Homo sapiens: one gene and its partner. The protein of the gene in region 2 interacts with the protein of the main gene of each other region in a pairwise test. Each region holds a gene or a part of one and is shown on either strand. Other genes may lie near its edges.

Region 1 (7,038 bases), on a different chromosome or scaffold from region 2:
TGAGGATATCTTTTCTCTGTAGTACATGTGCATCTTTTTTTGCAGTGGTGCAATCTTGGCTCACTGCAACCTCCTCCTCCCTGGTTCAAGTGATTCTCCTGCCTCAGCTTCCTAAGCACCTGAGACTACAGGTGCATGCCACCACGCCCGGCTAATTTTTGTATTTTTAGTAGAGATGGGGTTTCACCATGTTGGCCAGGCTGATCTCGAACTCCTGACCGCAAGTGATCCACCCACCTCGGCCTCCCAAAGCACTGGGATTACAGGCATGAGCCACCGCACCCAGCCTAGTATATGCCCATCTCTTAGGAGCTGCTCCTAACTGGTTTGGTTTGGATCTAGCCAGCCATGGGGCTCCTTATTCACTTATTTATCTTCTGTTTTTGCTCACCTGCCTCTTTCTCTTGCTTCTGCTCCTACTCATTCCTTCCTTAATCCAACCTCCAATTCCCTCTGCTATTCTCCTGCCTCAAGTTCACTAGGCTGGCTGCAAGGGTCCTGAGGGAGAGGTTGTGTATCGCCCCTGTATACTCCAGGTCCAGTAAATGTTTGCTGACTAATGATTGGCATTTCCCTCAGGCCCTGCCATTTCTGTGGGCTCAGGTCCCTACTGGCTCAGGCCCCTGCCTCCCTCGGCAAGGCCACAATGAACCGGGGAGTCCCTTTTAGGCACTTGCTTCTGGTGCTGCAACTGGGTAAGTTCTCAGACCTGGGGTCTCAATGCAGATGACGTGGGAGGAAAGGCAAAGGTGGAGGATGGGGTAGAGGGGGACAGCGGCGACATTGAGACCTGACTCCTTTCTTTTCCACTTAGCGCTCCTCCCAGCAGCCACTCAGGGAAAGAAAGTGGTGCTGGGCAAAAAAGGGGATACAGTGGAACTGACCTGTACAGCTTCCCAGAAGAAGAGCATACAATTCCACTGGAAAAACTCCAACCAGATAAAGATTCTGGGAAATCAGGGCTCCTTCTTAACTAAAGGTAGGGTTGCCTGGCTCCCCATCCAGGGAGGAAAACACACTATGGAGTGAAAGCCTTTGGTGTCTGAGATCTGGTCTTAGTTAAACTCTGGGATCCCAGAGGGCTTGGGTTGACAGAAACTCAGTGGCATTCTTATCCAGAGTTTCTCTACACCAACTGCTGGTGGCCCAGGGAAAGGTGGTATGTGAATTTCAATATTTTAATATTTAATATTCATGAACTTATTTTAGTGAGTTTTAGAACAATCACTATCACTTAAAACCCGTGATTTCTTGAGTATTGTTGCTACAGACCTATGTAGATAATACTTTGCACAGTGACTCATATGTATAATCCTAGCACTGTGGGAGGCTGAGGCCGGAGGATTGCTTGAGTCCAGGAGTTCAAGACCAGCCTGAACAACATAGTGAGACTCTGTCTCTATGAAAAAAAATATATATATATTTTTTTTGGAGACAAGGTCTAGTTCTATCACCCAGGCTCCAGTGCAGTGGTGTGATCTCGGCTCACTGCAATCTCCACCTCCCAGGCTCAAGTCATCATCCCACCTCAGCCTCCCAAGTAGCTGGGACTACAGGCATGCACCACCATGCCAGGCTAATTTTTGTATTTTTTATAGAGACAGGGTTTCACCATGTTGGCCAGGCTGGTCTCGAACTCATGAGCTCAAGTGATCCACTCACCTTGGCCTCTCAGAGTGCTGGAATTACAGGTGTGTGTCACTATGCCTAGCCAAAAAAAATTTTTTTAATTAAAAAAAAAAAGGCCGGCTGTAGTGGCTCACACCTGTAATCCAGAACTTTGGGAGTTTGAGGTGGGCAGATCACCGGNGGTCAGGAGTTCAAGACCAGTCTGGCCAACATGGTGAAACCCGGTCTCTACTAAAAATACAAAAATTAGCCAGGTGTGGGGGTGCAGTCCTGTACTTCCAGCTACTCAGGAGGCTGAGGCAGGAGACTCGCTTGAACCTGGGAGGCAAAGGCTGCAGTGAGCTGAGATTGCACCACTGCACTCCAGCCTGGGTGACAGAGCAAGACTTCATCTCAAAAAAAAAAAAAAAGCTGCANATTTATTATTATTATTATTAGTTTATTTATTTATTTTTTTGAGACAGAGTCTCGTTCTGTCGCCCAGGCTGGAGTGCGGTGGCGTGATCTTGGCTCATTGCAACCTCCACCTCCCGGGTTCAAGTGATTCTCCTGCCTCAGCCTCCCGAGTAGCTGGGACTACAGGCGTATGCCACCATGCCTGGCTAATTTTTTGTACTTTTAGTAGAGACAGAGTTTCACGGTGTTAGCCAGGCTGGTCTTGATCTCCTGACCTCGTGATTTACCCTCCTTGGCCTCCCAAAGTGCTGGGATTACAGGCGTGAGTCACTGTGCCCGGCCCAGAATCATTTTTTTCTACTTTTTTTTTTTTGAGGCAAACTCTCGATCTGTTGCCCAGGCTGGAGTGCAGTGGGCATGATCTTGGCTCACTGCAAGCTCTGCCTCCCAGGTTCAAGCAATTCTCCTGCCTCAGCCTCCTGAGTAGCTGGGACTACAGGCGTGTGCCACCATGCCCGGCTAATTTGCGTATTTTTAGTAGAGACCGGTTTTCATCATATTGGCCAGGCTGGTCTTGAACTCCTGACCTCAAGTGATTCTCCCACCTTAGCCTCCCAAAGTGCTGGGATTACAGGCATGAGCTACTGCACTTGGCCTTTTCTCCTGGTTTTAAAACTATTATATGCTCATTACAAAATATTTGGTCAATGAAGAAAAGAATATGGAAGAAAATCAAATGCATGCATACTTCTATCACTCAGAGATATCCTCTGCTAACATTTTGATTGATTTTCTTCCAATCTTTTTTTTTTTTTTTCTTTTTGAGACAGGGTCTCACTCTGCTGCCCAGGCTGGAGTACAGTGGCATGACCACAACACATCACAGCCTCAAGTGATCTTCCCACTTCAGCCTTCCCAGTAGCTGGGACTACAGGTGCACGCCACCATGTTCACCTAATTTTTTACTTTTTGTAGAGATGAGACTTCACCATGTTGCTCAGGCTGGTCTTGAATTCCTAGGCTCAAGTGATCTTCCCGCTTTGGCCTCCCAAAGTGCTGGGATTATAGGTATGAGCCACTGCATGTGGCCTATTTTCTTCCACTGTTGTTCGGCGTGGAGAATATTATATACATAATTACGTAAATGATATCATACTGTATATACCTTTTTTCCTACTCCTTCCTTAAGTTATATCATAATGAGACTACCAATTATTAGACTTTTTTTCTTTTTTTTGAGACGGAGTCTCGGTCTGTCACCTAGGCTGGAGTGCAATGGCGCGATCTCAGCTCGCTGCAACCTCTGCCTCCCAGGTTCAAGCAATTCTGCCTCAGCCTCCCGAGTAGCTGGGACTACAGACACGTGCCACCATGCCCAGCTAACTTTTTTATTTTTTTATTAGAGACAGGGTTCCACCATGCTAGCAGGATGGTCTCAATCTCTCGACTTCGTGATCAGCCCGGCTTGGCCTCCCAAAGTGCTGGGAGTACAGGTGTGAGCCACCGCACTCGGCCTAGACTAACTATTTAAAGTAATCTGGCAATGTTTAACGAATACAAAACTCTAAAACCCTTGGACCTAATAATAGCTATTTTGGAAAGTCTACTTGACAGAAATAAAATTGTGAATATTCTTTTTTGTTGTTTTTTTGAGACAGAGTCTCATTTGGACGCCTAGGCTGGAGTGCAGTGGCATGATCTCGGCTAACTGCAACCTCCACCTCCTGGGTTCAAGTGATTCTCCTGCCTCAGCCTCCTGAGCAGCTGGGATTACAGGTGTGCACCACCATGTCTGGCTAATTTTTGCATTTTTAGTAGATGGGGTTTCACCATGTTGACCAGGGTGGTCTGGAACTTCTACCCTCAAGTGATCTACCCACCTTGGCCTCCCAAAGTGCTGGGATTACAGGTGTGAGCCACCACGCCTGACCAGTGAACACTTAATAATATCTATGGAAAGGTGTTATTATAAGAATTGCTTGTGGGGCCGGGCGTGGTGGCTCACGCCTGTAATCCCAGCACTTTGGGAGGCTGTGGCAGGCGGATCACGAGGTCAGGAGATCAAGATCATCCTGGCTAACACGGTGAAACCCCGTCTCTACTAAAAATACCAAAAAATTAGCCAGGCGTGGTGGCGGGCACTTGTAATCCCAGCTATCCAGGAGGCTGAGGCAGGAGAATTGCGTGAACCCAGGAGGCGGAGGTCGCAGTGAGCTGAGACCGTGCCATTGCACTCCAGCCTGAGTGACAGAGTGAGACTCCATCACAAAAAATAAATAAATAAATAAATAAAATATAAATAAGTAAATAAAGGTCAGGAGTGGTGGCTCACGCCTGTAATCCCAGCACTTTGGGAGGCCGAGGTGGACAGATCATGAGGTCATGAGATCAAGACCATCCTGGCTAACACAGTGAAACCCTGCCTCTACTAAAAATACAAAAAGTCATCCAGGTGTGGTGGCACACACCTATAGTCCCAGCTACTTGGGAGGCTGAGGCAGGAGAATCACTTGAACCCAGGAGGCAGAGGTTGCAGTGAGCTGAGATCGCGCCACTACACTCCAGCCTAGGCGACAGAGCAAGACTCTGTCTCAAAATAAATAAATAAATAAATAAATAAATAAATAAATAAATAAAATAAAAAGCACACACACACACACACACACACACACACAATGCAAAAGACCCACCCTACTACAACTAACATTATATTTAATGGTGAAAAACTGAATTCTTTCTCCCTAAGTGCAGGAATAAGACAAAGATGTCTGCTCTTACTACTCTTATTCAACATAATACTGCAATCCCTTGCCAGTGCAATAAGGCAAGAAAAATGAAATAAAAGGAAAACTGATCAGAAAGAAAGAAATAAAACTGTTCCTATTTGTGGATGACATGATTACATAGAAAATCTCAAAGAATCTGTAAGAAACTTCTTAGAATTAATAAATGAATTCATCAAGGTTGCAGAATATAAGATAAACATAAAAAATCTATTGTATTTCTATATATTAGCAAGGAACATGTGTACACAGAAATTAAAACTACAATACCATTTATAATTGCTCAAAAAGGCCAGGCATGGTGGCTCACACCTGTAATTCCTGCACTTTGGGAGGCCAAGGTGGGAAGATTGCTTAAGCCCAGGAGTTCAAGACCAGCCCGGGCAACATAGTGAGACCTTGTCTCTACAAAAAGTAAAAAATTAGCTGAGCATGGCCGGGTGCAGTGGCTCACTCCTGTAACCCCAACACTTTGGGAGGCTGAGGCGGGCGGATCATGAGGTCAGGAGATCGAGACCATCCTGGCTAACACGGTGAAACCCTGTCTCTACTAAAAACACAAAAAATTAGCTGGATGTGGTGGCAGGCGCCTGTAGACCCAGCTACTCGGGAAGCTGAGGCAGGAGAATGGCGTGAACCTGGGAGGCGGAGCTTGCAGTGAGCTGAGATTGTGCCACTGCACTCCAGCCTGGGTGACACAGTGAGACTACGTCTCAAAAAAAAAAAAAAAAAAATTAGCTGAGCATTATGGTGTATGCCTGTAGTCCCAGCTACTGGGGAGGCTGAGGTGGGAGGATTGCTTGAGCCCTAGGAGGGCAAGGCTGCAGTGAGCCATGATCACACCACTGCTTTCCAGCCTCGGTAGGAGAGCAAGACCCTATCTCAAAAAAAAAAAAAAAAAAAAAAGAAAAGAAAAGAAAAGAAAAGAAAAAGAAAGAGAGAAAGAAATACTTAGGTGTAAATCTAAAAAACATGCGTAGGGCCAGGTGCAGTGGCTCATGCCTGTAATCCCAGCACTTTGGGAAGTTGAGGCTGGCGGATCACTTGAAGTCGGGAGTTTGAGACCAGCCTGGCCAACATGGTGAAACCCCGTCTCTACTAAAAATGCAAAAATTAGGCAGGTGTTGTGGCGCATGCCTGATCCCAGCTACTTTGGAGGCTGAGGCAGGAGAATTGCTTCAACCCGGGAGGCAGAGGTTGCAGTGAGCCAAGACTGTTCCACTGCACTCCAGCCTGGGCAACAGAGTAAGAGTCTGTCTCCCGAAAAAAAAAAAAAGAAAAAAGAAAGCATTGAATTGTATGCTAAAAACTACACGATGCTGATTAAAGAAGTCAAAGAAGATCTAAATATATGGAGAGACATGCTGTACTCATGGATTGATGGATTGGAAGACTCAACATAAGAAAGATATCAATTTTCCCCAAATTAATATACAAGTTTAATCCAATTCCTATAAAAATACCAGCAAGATTTTTTGTAGATATAAACAAGTTGGCCAGGTGTAGTGGCTTACACCTGTAATCCTAGCACTTTGGGAGGCTGAGGTGGGAAGATCGCTTGAGCCCAGGTGTTCACGACTGCAGTGAGCTATGATTGTGTCACTGCATTCCAGCTGGCACTCCAGCCTAAGTGACAAAGGGAGACCCTGTCTCAAAAACAAAAACAAAACCAAAATAATTTTGCTCTGCAAAATCCCTATTAAGAAGAAGAAAAGAGGCTGGGCACAGTGGCTCACCGCTGTAATCCCAGCACGTTGGGAGGCTGAGGCAGGCTGATCACTTCAGCCCAGAAGTTTGAGATCAGCCTGGGCAACATGAGGAAACCCCGTCTCTACCAAAAAAAAAAAAAGGTACATACACACACACACACACACACACACACATACACAAGTATATACACATATATATACACATACAGGTGAATAGATGTATATACATCTATTTATTGTGAATATACATCTATACACACACGTGTGTGTACACATATATTTAAAATTTATTTTTATTTATTTATTTATTTTTGAGACAGAGTCTTGCTCTGTCACCCAGGCTGGGTGCACCTGTATTCCCAACGACACAGGAGGCTGAGGTGGGAGAATCACTGAGCCAGGGAGGCAGAGGTTGCAGTGAGCCAAGATGTTGCCTGGTTGCCTGGGCAACAGAGCGAGACCCTATATCAAAAAAGAAGAATAATAAGAAAAGACAGTTTACAGAATATAAGAAAATATAT
Region 2 (5,297 bases):
TAACTGCCTTCCAGGCCTCAAACTTCGCCATCACAGAAAGATGGCACCACCTCCTCAGGCAGGAGGCCCCTAAGGCCGGGGTCAGAGCAAAAACACCCCTTCCTTCTGGGTTTCTTTTGTTAAGAACAGAAGGAGGGGGATTCTAGGGGAAGGCCGTGTAGCCCCTGCCCAGATCTGTTTGCGGATACCTCTGTGACCTCTGCTAAAGGGTGCAGCAGGGCAGGTGGCGGGTCACAGTTCTGAGAAGGTAACATACAAAGAGATCTTCCCTTAAAGATGTAGGAAGATAAGGAGGGGGGGAGTTGCTGGGGAAAGCCCCTTCTCCCATAGCCCCTGTGGGCCCTCATAGAAATGCAGGTTGGATTGTGGTGCAGCCAGGCAGCCTGTCCCCTCGAGGACAGGACCCTGGGGAGGGCCCCCGGGGCAGGCAGGGTGTCTGCACATACGCACACACTCTCTCATACACAACACATGCCTGTATGTGTGCACAGGCCTAGCTATGGAGTAGGAAACGAACTCAGACGCCATTCTCATTTGGACAAGCTTAAAACACGATGTGGCTCGTTTTTATTTTATCTCAGAAAAAAACATTCCCTTTAGAAGGAAAGGCAGTTAGACAAGGCCTCTCACTGGGTAGCTCTGCGCTACTCAGCACATGCCAGTGGCCTGCCAGCCCCAACCTCTCCCCTGGGACCTGGGCCCATGCTCTGGCACTGCTCTGTTACAACTCCCTGTCCTTGATCCCAGCTTTGTCACTCCAAGAGATGGCCCTGGGACTGAGAAGTGGATGGCAGCTGTGACAGCAGGAGAGGACTGCCTGAGGCTCCCCGGGCAGAGGCTCTGGTGCCAGGTTAGCAGCAGGACCGACGGCAGACCCAGCAGCCAGAGAGTGAAAGGTAATAAAATAAAAAGGGTTTCCTCACACTTACATTTTTCCTGGAAAAAAGTCAAATGTCACCTCTGGGCCCAGCAGCTCCTGAACCCTAGGAGAGTCTAGGGAGAGTGGTGTGTGGGTGGCAGGAGGCTGTTGGAGCCACTCCCCAGTCTCAGGGCCAGGCCAGTCTGCTGTGCCCAAGCTGCTCTGTGGAGACAAGGTGGTGCTTCCAGATGCTTCTGCAGTGGAGGGCTGGGCCCTGCCCAGCAAAGATGCTGCTGGTGCTGTGGCCCCCACCTGGTGCAAGGCCTCACAGCATGAAACATCTGCTTCCTCAGAACCCAAGCCCTTCTTGCTGGGCCTCATGCTGCTCCAGCCTGGGGCTCCCTTCTCTCAGTCCAAAGTAGGAACCGGCTGCCCTCAGGGTCTCCTGGCACTCTCTCTCTTCTCCCAACGTGACTGGTCAAGCCAACCAGAAAGATAAAGATCTCCTTCCCTTAGGAAGGGGCAAACTCCATGAATCATCAGGACACTCCTGCTCCATCCTGGGCCAGGGGGTCATCTAGGCCAGGGGGCTCTGGGCACACTCCCTTGAGCTCATGGCTAAGGAGCTCCACGTCTGGGAGGCCCGTGTTCCCCTGGGACTCTTGGGCACTCCCTCCACTCACCAGCCCCAGGGCATAGCCATTGGGCCTCCGCTCAGGGTGGGGAGCACTGCCGTTGGCCCACACTCCTGGCGGGTGGCCGTTGAGACGGAGGCTGACCTGCTCTCCGTCACTGCCATGAGCTGCCAAGACCCGGGCACTGGTGCCAGCTGCCTTGAAAGGTTCTTGCTGCCTCAGGACGTGGCTGCGAATGATCTTGCGGAAGGTCTGGCGGAACTCGCGGATACGGTAGGCGTAGATGAAGGGATTCACAACCGAATTGGTGTGGGAGAGGACGATGGCCAGGTACATGAGCCAGAGAGGGGCGTGGCTGCAGTCGGGGCAGAAGAAAGTGAAGCAGTTGATGATGTGTAGGGGCAGCCAGCAGAGGGCAAAGAGCCCCACAATGATGGCCAGTGACTTGGCAGCATGGACCTCCTTCTGCAGTGTGGACCGTGCCCGCTCCCCCGGCAGAGGCTGGCTCTCCATCTGCTTCAGCTGTCGTCGCGCCGCCAGGAAGATCCGCAAATAGACACCCAGCATGAGCAGCAGGGGCACCAGCACACAGGCAAAGAAGTTGAAGTACACCATGTAGTTCATGGGGACCACATCCTCAAAGAGACAGGCCACTTGGCCCTCCCCGCAGCCCTGGGAGTGGTTCTTGCCCTCCTTTGGCTGACCGCAGTTGTTCCAACCTAGCATGGGAGTCAGGCCGATGGCAAACGACAGCACCCAGCAGATGGCAATGATGCCCTTAGCCCTCGTGCCGGTCACCAAGCCATTGTACCTGGGGAGAAGAGACCAGCATCAGAGATCTGAGAAGCCAGGGTTAAGCAGGGCCAAGAGTTCAGAACCCCAGAGCAGCACCCGTTTCCACATTTCCTGACTGTAAGGTCTTGGACCAGTCATTTCCTGCCACCTCGCCCCAGCATCCTCTTCCGTTAAGTGGAAGTAATATGCCTTGCCTTTTTCACAGGCTTCTGGGAGGTAACAGGAGAGCAGGCATCCAAGAAATGGAAACCCATGTACAAATGCCCAGATGGTCATTGAGTAGTTTTCGGAGTAGTCCTGGGACTTAGTTTGGTTGGAGGAAATTAACGCATGATTTTTTGAGGGGGAAAACATGATTTTTCTCTAAAGGGAAACGTGTCGTAGCCTTAACCAAGATCAATTACCTCCATGTTGGTCGCAGCCTTAACCAAGATCAGTCACCTCCATGTTGGTTGATCTTGGTTAAGGCTACAACAGGCTTGAAGGGGTCTGGAGGGTGGCTTTACTGGCTAGGGGCAGCACCAGCCAGATCAGACCTATAGAGGATCTAGGCCTCTTGTACTCCATACCCTGTCTTCTCTTCCCCATTTGCCATTTGACTTGGGGACTCCAGAAGCCCTTGAGGAGAGGCAGCATGGAGGGTAAAAGAGGGGAGGAGGTCCCAGGCCAAAGGAGATGCCATTTCTCCCCTCCAAACCCACCCACAGCCCTCTGGAGAGAAATGAGAGAATTACTTGTTAACATTTACATGGCCATCTTAACATTTGCAAGGAAATACTGAGGTCCAGGGGGACAGTAATCTGCCCGAAATCACTCAGTCTTCCTGAGTGAGAGCCAGACAGAAATCCAAGCCTACCGACTCCCAGTCTCATACTCGGGAAATGGCTGGATCTGCCAGCCAGTAAGCAGACCTCAGCCCTGTAGGAAAGGTGGCCTAGATTTCATGAAAGAATGGACAATAAAAAAAAAAAGTCTCCCTAATTTAGGAAGGCAACCTTGATGATCACTGAGGGATGACTTCTGTTTAACAGTTTTGATTCTGGCAAGACCAGACTACACTCCCCTCTACCTGGCAGAAACCCTACCCATCCTTCAAGTCCAGGATAGAGATCTCAAAGAAGTTTCCTACCGAAGTGCAGCAGATCCCCACCACATCTGGGCCCCTCGGGGGCAGGGCTTTCCTACATCCATCTCTGCATTGCCAGCTCCGAGACAGGGACACTCAGAAGGTGCAAGGAGGCCGGGCGCAGTGGCTCACACCTGTAATCCCAGCACTTTGGGAGGCCGAGGCAGGCGGATCACGAGGTCAGGAGATGGAGAAACCTTGTCTCTACTAAAAATAAAAAAAACTAGCCGGCCGTGGTGGCGGGGGCCTGTAATCCCAGCTACTTGGGAGACAGGCAGGAGAATGGTGTGAACCCAGGAGGCAGAGCTTGCAGTGAGCCAAGATCGCGCCACTGCACTCCAGCCTGGGAGACAGAGCAAGACTCAGTCTCCAAAAAAAAAAAAAAAAAAAAAAAAAAAAAGGTGCAAGGGGAAGGATGTGCTCTACTTAACTGCGGAGCTGGGAACATCCACAGAAACCATCTCATTCACGGGTAGCAAACAGGCGCCTATAGGTAGCACACACAGGAGGCAGCTGGTGGGGCGTTTACCTGGTCTTCAGCGCCATGCAAAACGTACGCCTGCTATTACCAGATCTCAGGTGGGGCTGGGGAGATGATTTTCTGGGTAAAATCTCCCAAGATTTAAGTTTTGTCAACTAATTCAAATAAAAGAGAAAAAGAGAAACCCTGGTGGCTTCCGATCTCTTATGTGGTCCAATCCTCTTGTTTTACAGGTGGGTAAATTGAGGCCCAAGGAGAGGAATGGACTTGCTGTGGACATTCCAAGAGCCCAGAGGCAACTCAGGCCAAGGCGAGTCTGTCTGTTCTGAATCTCTTAGGTCAGTTCTGAATCCAAACAGTAACCGGACAAGCCCATTCTCAGGAGCTCCTCAGCTCCATTCCGTGGGGGCTTGGTTACCTGTAACAGGGCCTCAACAGGAGGGTCATAGACTTGCCCATTGCTTCCAAGCAACAGGGAGTTGGCATTGCCCTGCCTCCTGTGGGACTCGCAAACATAAAATCTCAGGCTCTCTCATTCTCACATCTACATTACATAGCACTGACTCTGTGCCGGACACTGTTCTTAGTGCTTTGCAAATAGTAATTTATATAGTCCTCATTGACTGGGAAGCTATATTAATTTTGACATTATTCCTGAGAAAAGCATATCCCTTCCTGGGTTCTGGCCCTGTTAACAGGAATGTTTTAAAACTTTGTCTCTCTGAGCCTCAGTTTCTTCATTTGTAAAATGGGACCAAGTCGTGGACCTGTCAGCACTCTGCCCTCTAAGGGCAGAATGGAGAATCAGTGGGTGGAAATTATAGGGAGGCAGATTGTAACTCAGGGTAGGTTAAGAGTTTTTCAGCTGAGCTGTTCACAGGAGAGATGGCCTGCCTCAGGCAATAGTGAGTTTCCTGTCATTTGAGGCAACAGAGCAGAGCCAAGCAGCCACAGGGGTGTTGCAGAGCTGCCTGGGCCCTGGGCCACCTGCTTTGCTGGTTTTCAAACTGTTCTCAGCAGCAAACCTTGTCGCCCACATTCCCAGGCAGTCACAGAGGTGAAGCTGCTGGGGAAGGGAAGGGGCTTATTAAATGTTTATTGAATCAGTGAATTGGTGGGGACACCAGAGCCAACCCGAAGGCTTCTGGGAACACAGTATGGAAATCCCTGGTCTGTCCAATTGTTGACTTGTACAGAAAAGGGAACCCACAAGGGGAGTCTTCCACCGTACTCTGCAAAGAAAGTCCCGTGTGGGGACAGAAACAAAACATACATTAATAGCACTTGCTTATATATGCAAAGAATATCTCTGGAAGGATTCTTAACATGGCCTTGCAGGCAGGGAACTGAGGGTGGGGGACAGGGGGTATGGAGGACAACTTTCTACTATACTATACTCTT

What was found. The genes of interacting proteins can lie anywhere in the genome.
Region 1: the proteins of ADORA2A (region 2) and CD4 come close enough for resonance energy transfer, tested with the Homo sapiens proteins (one study listed by BioGRID).

What each region holds. Positions count from the first base shown.
Region 1 is NC_000012.12:6,799,493-6,806,530, forward strand, and holds part of CD4 (T-cell surface glycoprotein CD4 isoform 1 precursor), read left to right. Parts: intron 1-45; exon of another isoform or gene 46-131; intron 132-579; 5' UTR 580-646; coding exon 647-695; intron 696-814; coding exon 815-979; intron 980-7,038. UniProt on the Homo sapiens protein: Integral membrane glycoprotein that plays an essential role in the immune response and serves multiple functions in responses against both external and internal offenses.
Region 2 is NC_000022.11:24,437,591-24,442,887, reverse strand, and holds the end of ADORA2A (adenosine receptor A2a), read right to left. Parts: intron 4,612-5,297; exon of another isoform or gene 4,130-4,611; intron 3,595-4,129; exon of another isoform or gene 3,321-3,594; intron 2,306-3,320; coding exon 1,399-2,305; 3' UTR 531-1,398; downstream 1-530. UniProt on the Homo sapiens protein: Receptor for adenosine. The activity of this receptor is mediated by G proteins which activate adenylyl cyclase.